Linked DNA regions of Homo sapiens. The gene in region 1 interacts genetically with each later gene. Each region holds a gene or a part of one and is shown in the gene's direction. Other genes may lie near its edges.

Region 1 (5,692 bases):
GTGAGGAATTCAAAACCAGCCTGGCCAACATGGTGAAACCCTGTCTCTACTAAAAATACAAAAAAAATTAGCCGGGCCTAGTCCCAGCTGCTTGGGAGACTAAGGCAGGAGAATCGCTTGAAACTGGGAGGTAGAGGTTGCAGTGAGCTGAGACTGTGCCACTGCACTCCAGCCTGGGTGACAGTGCGAGACTCCATCTCAAAAAAAAAAAAACAAAAAAAAAAAACCACTACCTTTTCAAGTGTGCTTCATCATCTTATATACTGTCCACCACAGACCCAAGGTCATAGACTATTTCTGCAGCCTAACCTACCAATCAGTCCTTTAACATAGAACTAACTATACAAGGATCCTCCCTCCTCCAACTCCAGATACCTTCAGTCCTTTCTCAGTATGTCTGAGAGCCATGATAGCATTTGTATCTCTCAAAATCACCCTCTATAAGGGCCTCATCTCTCCCGGAGATGTCCCACACCTATTAAGGTCAACAGGAGGATTTGGTTCTATTCTTGGAATTGACAGTGTTGTACCCTGCTAGCACTTACATGATGTGTTAATTCCAATGATAATTTTATCAATGTTGGTATCCACTACCATGCCCAAATCTGAACTAGACCTTCTAGAACTAGTTTATAAGTTTCTTGTGGGCAGAGATTTCATTTCTCTTTGTATAAGCCTAGAATCTAGCCTACTATCTGGAACATTGTTGGTGATTGTTATGTAAGTCGATGATGTTGACTGCCCCTTCAGCTAGGCAGTGATGTATCAATGGAAACCATCCCTGTTCTGGGTGTAATAGCTTTGAGTTAACTAGCAATGCATTCTGTGGGGCATAACAAAATGTTGAGCTAGCTCCTGGGCAGGGTCTTTGAATTGCTCTGATATTTCAGCATCACTCTGTCAATTGACATAATGCTACCCCTTTGGGCACAGGGGTTTGTAGAATACATAGCTCTGGGCTGCTGCAAAGGCATCTGGATTCAAAGACAGCATGTGTCTGGCTACATCTGCCAATAATATGTGTCTGGAGGGTTACAAAGCAATATGACTTTATACAGATGAAAATGAAAATTTTAAACTGACATTTGTTGATGTGAGTAAGGGCCACTGATGGAAGCAGTTTTAGAGGGCGGAAGCTATTAAAGAGATGGAGCCAGGACTTTGTCAGTAGGGGCAATAAGAAGTATAACTGGCTGAAATCTGAGAAAGAGCTCAGAACAAGGACCCCATAATAATACCAAAAAAAAAAAAAAAAAGAGCCAGAGCAGTAAGATAGGGTTTTCTAGTCAGTGGAGGTGGCAGCAGCATTGAGCCTTTGAATGGAGAACTGGACCAGTGGGGCCATTCTCTAGAGAAGTCATTTTGCATACAATTGATGACCAATTCAAGCCTAAGAAATGCAGTCCATGTAGTAAAAGTTACCCATTATTCACCTACTACTTGTAGCCAGTTTCCCAGAAGTCTTCTGGCTATGTGGAAGCAGGGAGCTAAGAAGCATGGACCCTTTCCTCTCCTAATCATCTCACCCTCTGATACATGTAAGTCTCTCCACCTTCAGCTTTTCCCCTGAGGCTACTCCCACAACCATCAAACTTTTCATAATCCCTGGTTGCAAAGGAAGAGAGGAGACAGGTGGTAAGAGCAATATCACCTTCTATAGTGGGCGTGGTCTTCCCTCCCTCTCTGAGTGGTAAGTCTAATGGCTTCTAAGGTTTACCTCTTCATCTAACCTCCGAAGTTTTCTCTTAAAGAAAATAATTTCCTCCTTTCCCTAAAACTACTTTATCCAAATTCAGCTACCAACGTCTCTGATACCGATCTTCCTTAGAATGTTTATTCTGTCCTAATACAAAACAGTTTTCTCTCTGGTCAAGGTCAAAGCCTCTCATTAATTTTTAGCACTTCTTATATACTTCCCTCCTGATCTGATACTCTAGTCAGTCACTAGACTCTAGTCTCTTGGTGCCAATGCCAAGTTTCTCATGCAGTCCAGGCATTTTTCTTTAATCAGTATAGCTTGGAGGAATCCAAGAGTCCCTTAGAGTTAGGAGTATAGAATGCCTGGGGGTCCTTGAATTTTATTAGATTTCCAACTTTTCACCTGGTGGTCTGTAGAACCATTTCTTTAGATGTGGCAGATGCTCCAATGAGTTAAAGAGTGGTAAGTCAATCCAAATCTCCTTTTCCTTTGAACCATTCTTGTTACTCTGATGAGCGTATACTATATTTATTCAATACACTCATCAAATATTTACTAAGTAAATACAGCAGTTTATATAGTACTTGAATAAACATTCAATAAGGATTTTTTTTAATATTCCCACTGCCTAGAAACAGACTTGGCACCTAGTAGACCCTCAATAAATATGTCCTGTTGCCCTCAAAGTGATTTACTTCCAGCATAAAGAGGCAGACAATAAATAAAGTTGGTTAAATTTGATAAGTGGTATGAAGAAAAATATAGCTGAGCAACAGGGAGAGAGAGTGATGGGGTATGCTGTAAGATGATCAAGGAAGGTACTCTGATAAGGGAACATTTGGGAAGAGACCTGAATGAAATGAAGTAAGAGCTATGCAAATGTCTGGGGAAAAAAGAAGCAGAAAATTCAAAGGCTCTGAAGCAGAAGAATGTTTGGTATGTTCCAGAAAGATCAGTGTGGCTGGGAGCAGAGTAAGAAGAGGAAGAGGGAAGGAGATGAGTTAAGAAAGCAAAATCCAATCTAGAGCCTTGTTGGCCAAGGTAAGGACTCTGGCTTTTATTCTGCATGAAATGGAGGACCACTGGAGGATTTTGAGCAGAGGAATGACAGGATCTGATGTATGTTTTAACAGCATTCCTCTGGCTGCTGTATTGAAAATAGGTGCAGGAAGAAAGGATACAAGCAGGAAGAATCTTTAGGAGAGTATTACAATAATCCAGGCAAGAGATGATGGTGGCTTAGACCAGGATGGAAGCAGTGTGGGTGGGGAGAAGTGGTCAGATTTTAGAGAGATTTTGAAGGAATGGCTGAAGGATTTTTCAGATTGATTAGATAAGGGATATGACAGACAGAGAAGAGGCATCAGTGACCCCAGGGTTTTGGACTTCAGGAACTAAACAGGTAGAATTGCCATTTCTGAGATGAGGAAGCAAAGGAGAGAAGCAGTGTAGAGGAATATGGGGAAAGAGTTTAGTTAGGCTTGTTAAATTTGAGGTAGCTATTAAACAGCCAAGTGGATATATAAGTCTACACTAAACATCACTGTGTATCATGAAAATAAGATGACTCTCTTTTGTACAAAGGACTTGTCATTGAAGAAGTGAGTCAGTCTGGAAACTGCTCTGAACAGAATAAGAGGTAGGATGGGATAGGTAAATCATAGTGGGGTGAGTTATGGCCAAAAAAAAAATCTTATCAGGTGTTGATTATAAATTCACAAATTACTTGATATGTTATAATAAAAATTTAACTATCTAAGCTCAGGTTTGCCTCACAAGTGTCAAAGAACAAGTCATTTACCTTGAAGAGTTAAGAACATGGCAGAAGTTCGTGACCAGCCTGGGCAACATGGTGAAACCCCGTCTCTACCAAAAATACAAAAAAAAAAAAAATAGCGGGGCACTGTGGCACACACCTGTAGTCCCAGCTACTCAGGAGGCTGAGGTAGGAGAATTGCTTGAGCCCAAGAGGCAGAGGTTGCAGTGAGCCAAGATCGTGCCACTGCACTTCAGCCTAGGCAACAGAGTGAAACTCCATCCAAAAAAAGAAAAAAAAAGAAAGAAAGAAAGAAAGAAAAAGAAAGTCTAGACCCTACTTCATTTGTTTGGTCATTCATCATTTAACAAATGTTTTTTACAGGTGCCCGCCACAACACCCAGCTAATTTTTGTATTTTTAGTAGAGACTGGGTTTCACTATGTTGGCCAGGCTGGTCTCGAACTGCTGACGTTGAGTGATCCGCCCACCTCAGCCTCCCAAAGTGCTGGGATTACAGGGGTAAGCCACTGCATCCAGCCTAGACTTTCTTTCTAGGAACTATAGATATTAAGCTTAATGATCTCCACAAATCCCTGTGAGAGAAAAAAATTTTTATAAACAGTTCATTAACTCTTGGAAACGGAAGGGATGTAGTGATCCTTAGGAGCTGCATAGGTTCACCAAGAACAAATCAGGCTGCAGAAGCCTATTTTCCTGTTTTCATCAGACTATTAAACTAGTTGATTAGAGGCATAGCATACACATAGTCTATCTTGCCTTTTAAAAAGAAAGTCAGTGGCAATATCCAGGGTATATACAATCTTTCTGACTCACCATTCAAGAATGACTAGGTTCATCTCAGTTTCTCCATTCAAATTACTTTATAAATGAAAGCATTGGCTAGCTAAGCAGGAGTCTCAAACACATGGTTAGTTTCAACTCTTAGAAAAGAAGTGAATTTCGTTTTCTTTACTACATTTCTTCCTTGAATTCACTGACTTGAGTTGGCCAGAAGTATTTCAGATCGTTTAAGTTTATTCGTACTAATTATGTGAGGCCTTTGGTTGTTGTTCTTCTTCAAAGAAAGTATGATACCTTCACTGTGGGTGTTGAGTCACAACAGTTCTAGAAATCTGTGCCAGGATTTCTTGCTGTGTCTTATCTTTGTGATGTGTTTCTGAAGTAATAATAGCTCCAGGTGGCTTGTTTGGTCATCTCTTGCACAGCACTCCAGAAATCCACAGAACTTTATTTTCTAGTTAGAATGAAATGTAGAATGTATTTGGGAGGTCATGAGGCCTTAGAATCAGGTAAAATGAATCCAGAATTCCCAAGGAGGTAGTTTCCATATTTCACAAATATTATTGTAAAAACATCTGTTCTCTTCCGATAGGAGCATTTTCAGGAGTTAATAAAAATCTTAATATCTCTCCACACCTGCCTGCCTTCCATGTTTCCGTCCTGGTAAGAGAATAAAATTGCAGCATGGTGTAATAGAAGAGGTACTAGACTGAGCTGCAATTTCTTGATTCCAATCTTGATGTCACTGCCACCTTACCAGCCATGTGAACTTGGAGAAGTCACGTACTTCTAAGCTTCAGTTTTCTTGTCCTTAAAACAGGGATAATTAGCCCTGCTTACCTCATAGAGTTGTTGTGTTTATCAAAAGTGTTAATGTCTGCAAAAGTACCTCATTTTATTTTATTTTATTTTTGAGAGGGAATCTCGCTCTGTCACGCAGGCTGGAGTGCAGTGGTGCAATCTCAGCTCACTGCAATCTCCGCCTCCTGGGTTCAAGTAATTCTCCTGCCTCAGCCTCCCAAGTAGCTGGGATTACAGGCACCCGCCACCACACCTGGCTAACTTTTATATTTTAGTAGAGGCAGGGTTTCACCTTGTTGGCCAGGCTGATCTCAAACTCCTGACCTCAAATGATCCTCACGCCTCGGCCTCCCAAAGTGCTGGGATCACAGGCACGAGCCACTGCACCTGGCCTACAAAAATACTTCAAAAATTATTAAGTGCTATTACTATGCTCTCTCTGGAAAATGAACACACTAGTATGGTGTGCCAGGCATTTGGGGCATTCACATTCCCTAATTTATGGACAACAATTATAATTTCTTCAGAAATGCTCTCTATCAGCCAAATTGCCCATTTTTGTTCTCACTCATGCTATCCAAGCCCATAGGAAGAAGACTCCAAGCCTCACACTATGGCCTACCTCATCACAGC
Region 2 (5,025 bases), on another chromosome or scaffold:
CAAAGCTGGAAAAATAAGTCTTGTACTTCTTTTTCACAGAATTGGGAGGATGAAATGATAGTGTCTTGTAAAGGCCTATATATGATAGTGGGATATTCATTACTGCCCTTTAAGTTGAATAAATGATGCTAAATACTTACCTATTCTGTATATATATATTTGGAGAAAAATAATCCTCACTTAATAGGATTTTTCTCTCTACTTATTGGGCTAAGGATAAAAGACAGAAAGTTTGTTTCAGAATGGCCTCTCAACAAAGAATTGTGCCCTCTTCATGCCTTGAATTCAAAATAGGAATAGCTTAGGGCTTTGTGTATATAGTAAAAGAGAGGACTGTCAGAGGACTTACAATACATGCGTGTTTATGTCTATGTGCAGTCTATATTATAGACATAGATGTGGAATTAAGCTTCAGGAGAATGGTGATAATTATTAGCACCTTTTAGGCCAATACCTATACTAGATGGATTTATTAGATTGATCCGTACAAAATAGGCACTAATTGACTGGTTTCAATATACAAAATTTATTTTATTTTATATAATTCAAGCTGATAGTTTGCTACTTTGTGATTATGATTGGTCAATGGAAATATTATAATTATACTTTACTATTAAGTAGAAGTATATGTAATGTCAAGCAGGTCAACTAGAGGCATGTTAGCTATCTGTTAGATTTGCTTTTTTAGTTGAATTTTTTTCCTTTGATGCTTTCTTTTCCATGTGTAAAACCTTTTTCAGAAGCATCTCCAATTAAATCCTTGTTACCAGTATAGGCAATCATAGCAAACCATAGAGACTAAAAAACATGATTTCTTCACTCCATCTATTCATCTTGGCATGGAACTCAGCTATAGATTCTTGTTTTTTCAATATCCTTTATAGAAGTTAAGTTGTCTGTATATTTAAAGACTATTTAATCCTAATAGGTAGTCTTATTTCCTAATATAAATAACTTTTAGAAAACAAAAACATTGAAACAACCAGCCCCATATGCAGAAGAGACAAATGCAATTAGAAAGAAAGAAAAATTTAGGAGATAGAAATTCTGATTCTGGCCTCGTTGGCTTCTTGTTTTATTATAAACATTTTTGACCCACTTACTCTTTTTTTCATAAGACAATGGTGATCCACAAATACTTGTTGTGAGAAATCATGAAAACAAATCTGTGGGTTTTTTTGTTCTAGACAAAGAAGCTAACCATTATGTATAACCTTGGTCTGATTAATATTTTCCAGAAACTAGAGGTTAGCTGATATTTTTTTATTCCTTTAGAATACCTGAATCCAGTGGAGGAGAACCCTTTTGTTTCTCGGAGAAAAAATGGAGACCTTCAAGCATTGGATAATCCCGAATATCACAATGCATCCAATGGTCCACCCAAGGCCGAGGATGAGTATGTGAATGAGCCACTGTACCTCAACACCTTTGCCAACACCTTGGGAAAAGCTGAGTACCTGAAGAACAACATACTGTCAATGCCAGAGAAGGCCAAGAAAGCGTTTGACAACCCTGACTACTGGAACCACAGCCTGCCACCTCGGAGCACCCTTCAGCACCCAGACTACCTGCAGGAGTACAGCACAAAATATTTTTATAAACAGAATGGGCGGATCCGGCCTATTGTGGCAGAGAATCCTGAATACCTCTCTGAGTTCTCCCTGAAGCCAGGCACTGTGCTGCCGCCTCCACCTTACAGACACCGGAATACTGTGGTGTAAGCTCAGTTGTGGTTTTTTAGGTGGAGAGACACACCTGCTCCAATTTCCCCACCCCCCTCTCTTTCTCTGGTGGTCTTCCTTCTACCCCAAGGCCAGTAGTTTTGACACTTCCCAGTGGAAGATACAGAGATGCAATGATAGTTATGTGCTTACCTAACTTGAACATTAGAGGGAAAGACTGAAAGAGAAAGATAGGAGGAACCACAATGTTTCTTCATTTCTCTGCATGGGTTGGTCAGGAGAATGAAACAGCTAGAGAAGGACCAGAAAATGTAAGGCAATGCTGCCTACTATCAAACTAGCTGTCACTTTTTTTCTTTTTCTTTTTCTTTCTTTGTTTCTTTCTTCCTCTTCTTTTTTTTTTTTTTTTTTAAAGCAGATGGTTGAAACACCCATGCTATCTGTTCCTATCTGCAGGAACTGATGTGTGCATATTTAGCATCCCTGGAAATCATAATAAAGTTTCCATTAGAACAAAAGAATAACATTTTCTATAACATATGATGGTGTCTGAAATTGAGAATCCAGTTTCTTTCCCCAGCAGTTTCTGTCCTAGCAAGTAAGAATGGCCAACTCAACTTTCATAATTTAAAAATCTCCATTAAAGTTATAACTAGTAATTATGTTTTCAACACTTTTTGGTTTTTTTCATTTTGTTTTGCTCTGACCGATTCCTTTATATTTGCTCCCCTATTTTTGGCTTTAATTTCTAATTGCAAAGATGTTTACATCAAAGCTTCTTCACAGAATTTAAGCAAGAAATATTTTAATATAGTGAAATGGCCACTACTTTAAGTATACAATCTTTAAAATAAGAAAGGGAGGCTAATATTTTTCATGCTATCAAATTATCTTCACCCTCATCCTTTACATTTTTCAACATTTTTTTTTCTCCATAAATGACACTACTTGATAGGCCGTTGGTTGTCTGAAGAGTAGAAGGGAAACTAAGAGACAGTTCTCTGTGGTTCAGGAAAACTACTGATACTTTCAGGGGTGGCCCAATGAGGGAATCCATTGAACTGGAAGAAACACACTGGATTGGGTATGTCTACCTGGCAGATACTCAGAAATGTAGTTTGCACTTAAGCTGTAATTTTATTTGTTCTTTTTCTGAACTCCATTTTGGATTTTGAATCAAGCAATATGGAAGCAACCAGCAAATTAACTAATTTAAGTACATTTTTAAAAAAAGAGCTAAGATAAAGACTGTGGAAATGCCAAACCAAGCAAATTAGGAACCTTGCAACGGTATCCAGGGACTATGATGAGAGGCCAGCACATTATCTTCATATGTCACCTTTGCTACGCAAGGAAATTTGTTCAGTTCGTATACTTCGTAAGAAGGAATGCGAGTAAGGATTGGCTTGAATTCCATGGAATTTCTAGTATGAGACTATTTATATGAAGTAGAAGGTAACTCTTTGCACATAAATTGGTATAATAAAAAGAAAAACACAAACATTCAAAGCTTAGGGATAGGTCCTTGGGTCAAAAGTTGTAAATAAATGTGAAACATCTTCTCATGCAATTATTTTATTATCCAACACACTAATCTTTTGATACTTTATATAATTCCCTTTCTTCATATACTGCATCCAGTACTAGAACCATCATTATTATGTATCATTTTGAAAGAATACCTGATGAGATGAAGGATGAGAACAAATGACAGAGATGAGTCTCCAAGTAAAGGGGGCCTCACATCAATAATTAGGAAACTTAGATATAAGTCGCCCTTTTCTGAAAATTCTACCCCAAGTCATTTAGATTTTTAAAAAATATTTCTAATGTTAAAATATTGGGACCAAATTAGAATCAATAGTATAAGATTAATTAATTAGAGTAAAAATATCTATTAAGGCAGAGAAAGTTTAGAGAAAAAAATCCAAAGAAATTTGTGTTTCTTCCTATTCTGAACAAGTAAATCCATCCATCCATCCATCCAAACCTCCTTTATCTAACTGTGTCTACTAAAAGCACCATGTTTTGTGGGGAACACTCAGATAAATGGAATATCATCCTCAACTTCAAAATTCTATGATCTAGGAGATTTAATTAAAATGACATTTTAATTTTTCTATGCGTTCCAACAATCAGATTGCATAGTCTCTTTTGTGAATAGCTGTCATATAATCAGTTGTACTGTAAGATATCTCCTTTAAACTCATTTGGGATATAAGTTAAACATCCTTCAAATTGTTGATGTTGACAAACAGGATAATTTCAATAATATTATTCAAACATAAACTGGTCTAGGAGAATATTGCATCACTGACTAATTAGCCTATCTAGAGTCTAACTTCACCATTAAACCAAAAGCAGATGGTGGTCCTTGGCCAAGAATATTGGAGACATTGGAGTTGGTTTTTTTCTAAGCTATAAGAAGTGAGGCGAGCTGAAAAAGTATGGTAGAGCAGGAGAAGGGTTTGTGAGATTCCTTCTAGTGAAGTTCACCCTCAAACTTTTCAGGGGTAAAGACACAGAGTGATTCAGGGGCCACAATCTAATAGCTCAGGGCTCTCCTATCCATTCAGAGAAGTCTCTAGGAAAAGGGATCTCATATCAGTACTTATGAAAAATTGAATATAAGCCTCCCTTTCTAAATAAATCTGCATCGAGTCATCACAGCCCTCTTTTTGGATACTATACCTTGATTTTTTTTTTCTGATTTACAATATGCATATGGTTTCTACTGGGCTATAGAAAGCAGAATCACTCATTTTGGAGAAGGAAAAAATGAATAGTTAAAACAAACTTTTAACTGTTAAGGTAACAGAAATGTATTTAGTGAATGTCTCTTTCCTCCTAAGAACACAAGACTTCTACATGTTGGGTAATACCTAGAGATGCATGTAGGAATAATCCAAAATGACCCAAATGCTTTATAATAGCACCACTTTATAATTCTTTTGAATGATTTCTGTAGTATATAATTGACTTCAGTTGTTTGAGTGTTTTTTGTTTTATTTTTGTCCCCCCTGGGAAAACATATTTCAGCATGTATAAGAGGGAGAAAAAAAGTTTCATTCCTTCCAGAGAATAACTTATTTAGTCCAGTAGGGTAGAATTTTAAAATGTCAGTTAAAGTCTTCAAAGTGCTTGGGGGGATATCAGATTCCAGAGGCCAATTGTAGCAATTGAAATTTGCAGAATCAATTATGTAAATCTGAGACAAATTAGTATTAAAATTACACGGAGTATATTTTTTAAATCACCCAACTTTGTAGATTATACCTATTTTGGGCAGGTATGGAAAAATTTTGCAGTTAAATGATTGCCTAAAGAAAGTGGTAAACAGGTG

What was found. Genes that interact genetically often act in the same process or in processes that back each other up.
Region 2: changes in EDA (region 1) and ERBB4 together harm fitness less than expected from each alone (positive genetic interaction), as found in Homo sapiens cells (one large-scale study listed by BioGRID).

The regions. Positions count from the first base shown.
Region 1 is NC_000023.11:69,957,279-69,962,970, forward strand, and holds part of EDA (ectodysplasin-A), read left to right. Parts: intron 1-5,692. UniProt on the Homo sapiens protein: Cytokine which is involved in epithelial-mesenchymal signaling during morphogenesis of ectodermal organs. Functions as a ligand activating the DEATH-domain containing receptors EDAR and EDA2R. May also play a role in cell adhesion.
Region 2 is NC_000002.12:211,380,311-211,385,335, reverse strand, and holds part of ERBB4 (receptor tyrosine-protein kinase erbB-4 isoform JM-a/CYT-1 precursor), read left to right. Parts: intron 1-1,275; coding exon 1,276-1,721; 3' UTR 1,722-5,025. UniProt on the Homo sapiens protein: Tyrosine-protein kinase that plays an essential role as cell surface receptor for neuregulins and EGF family members and regulates development of the heart, the central nervous system and the mammary gland, gene transcription, cell proliferation, differentiation, migration and apoptosis.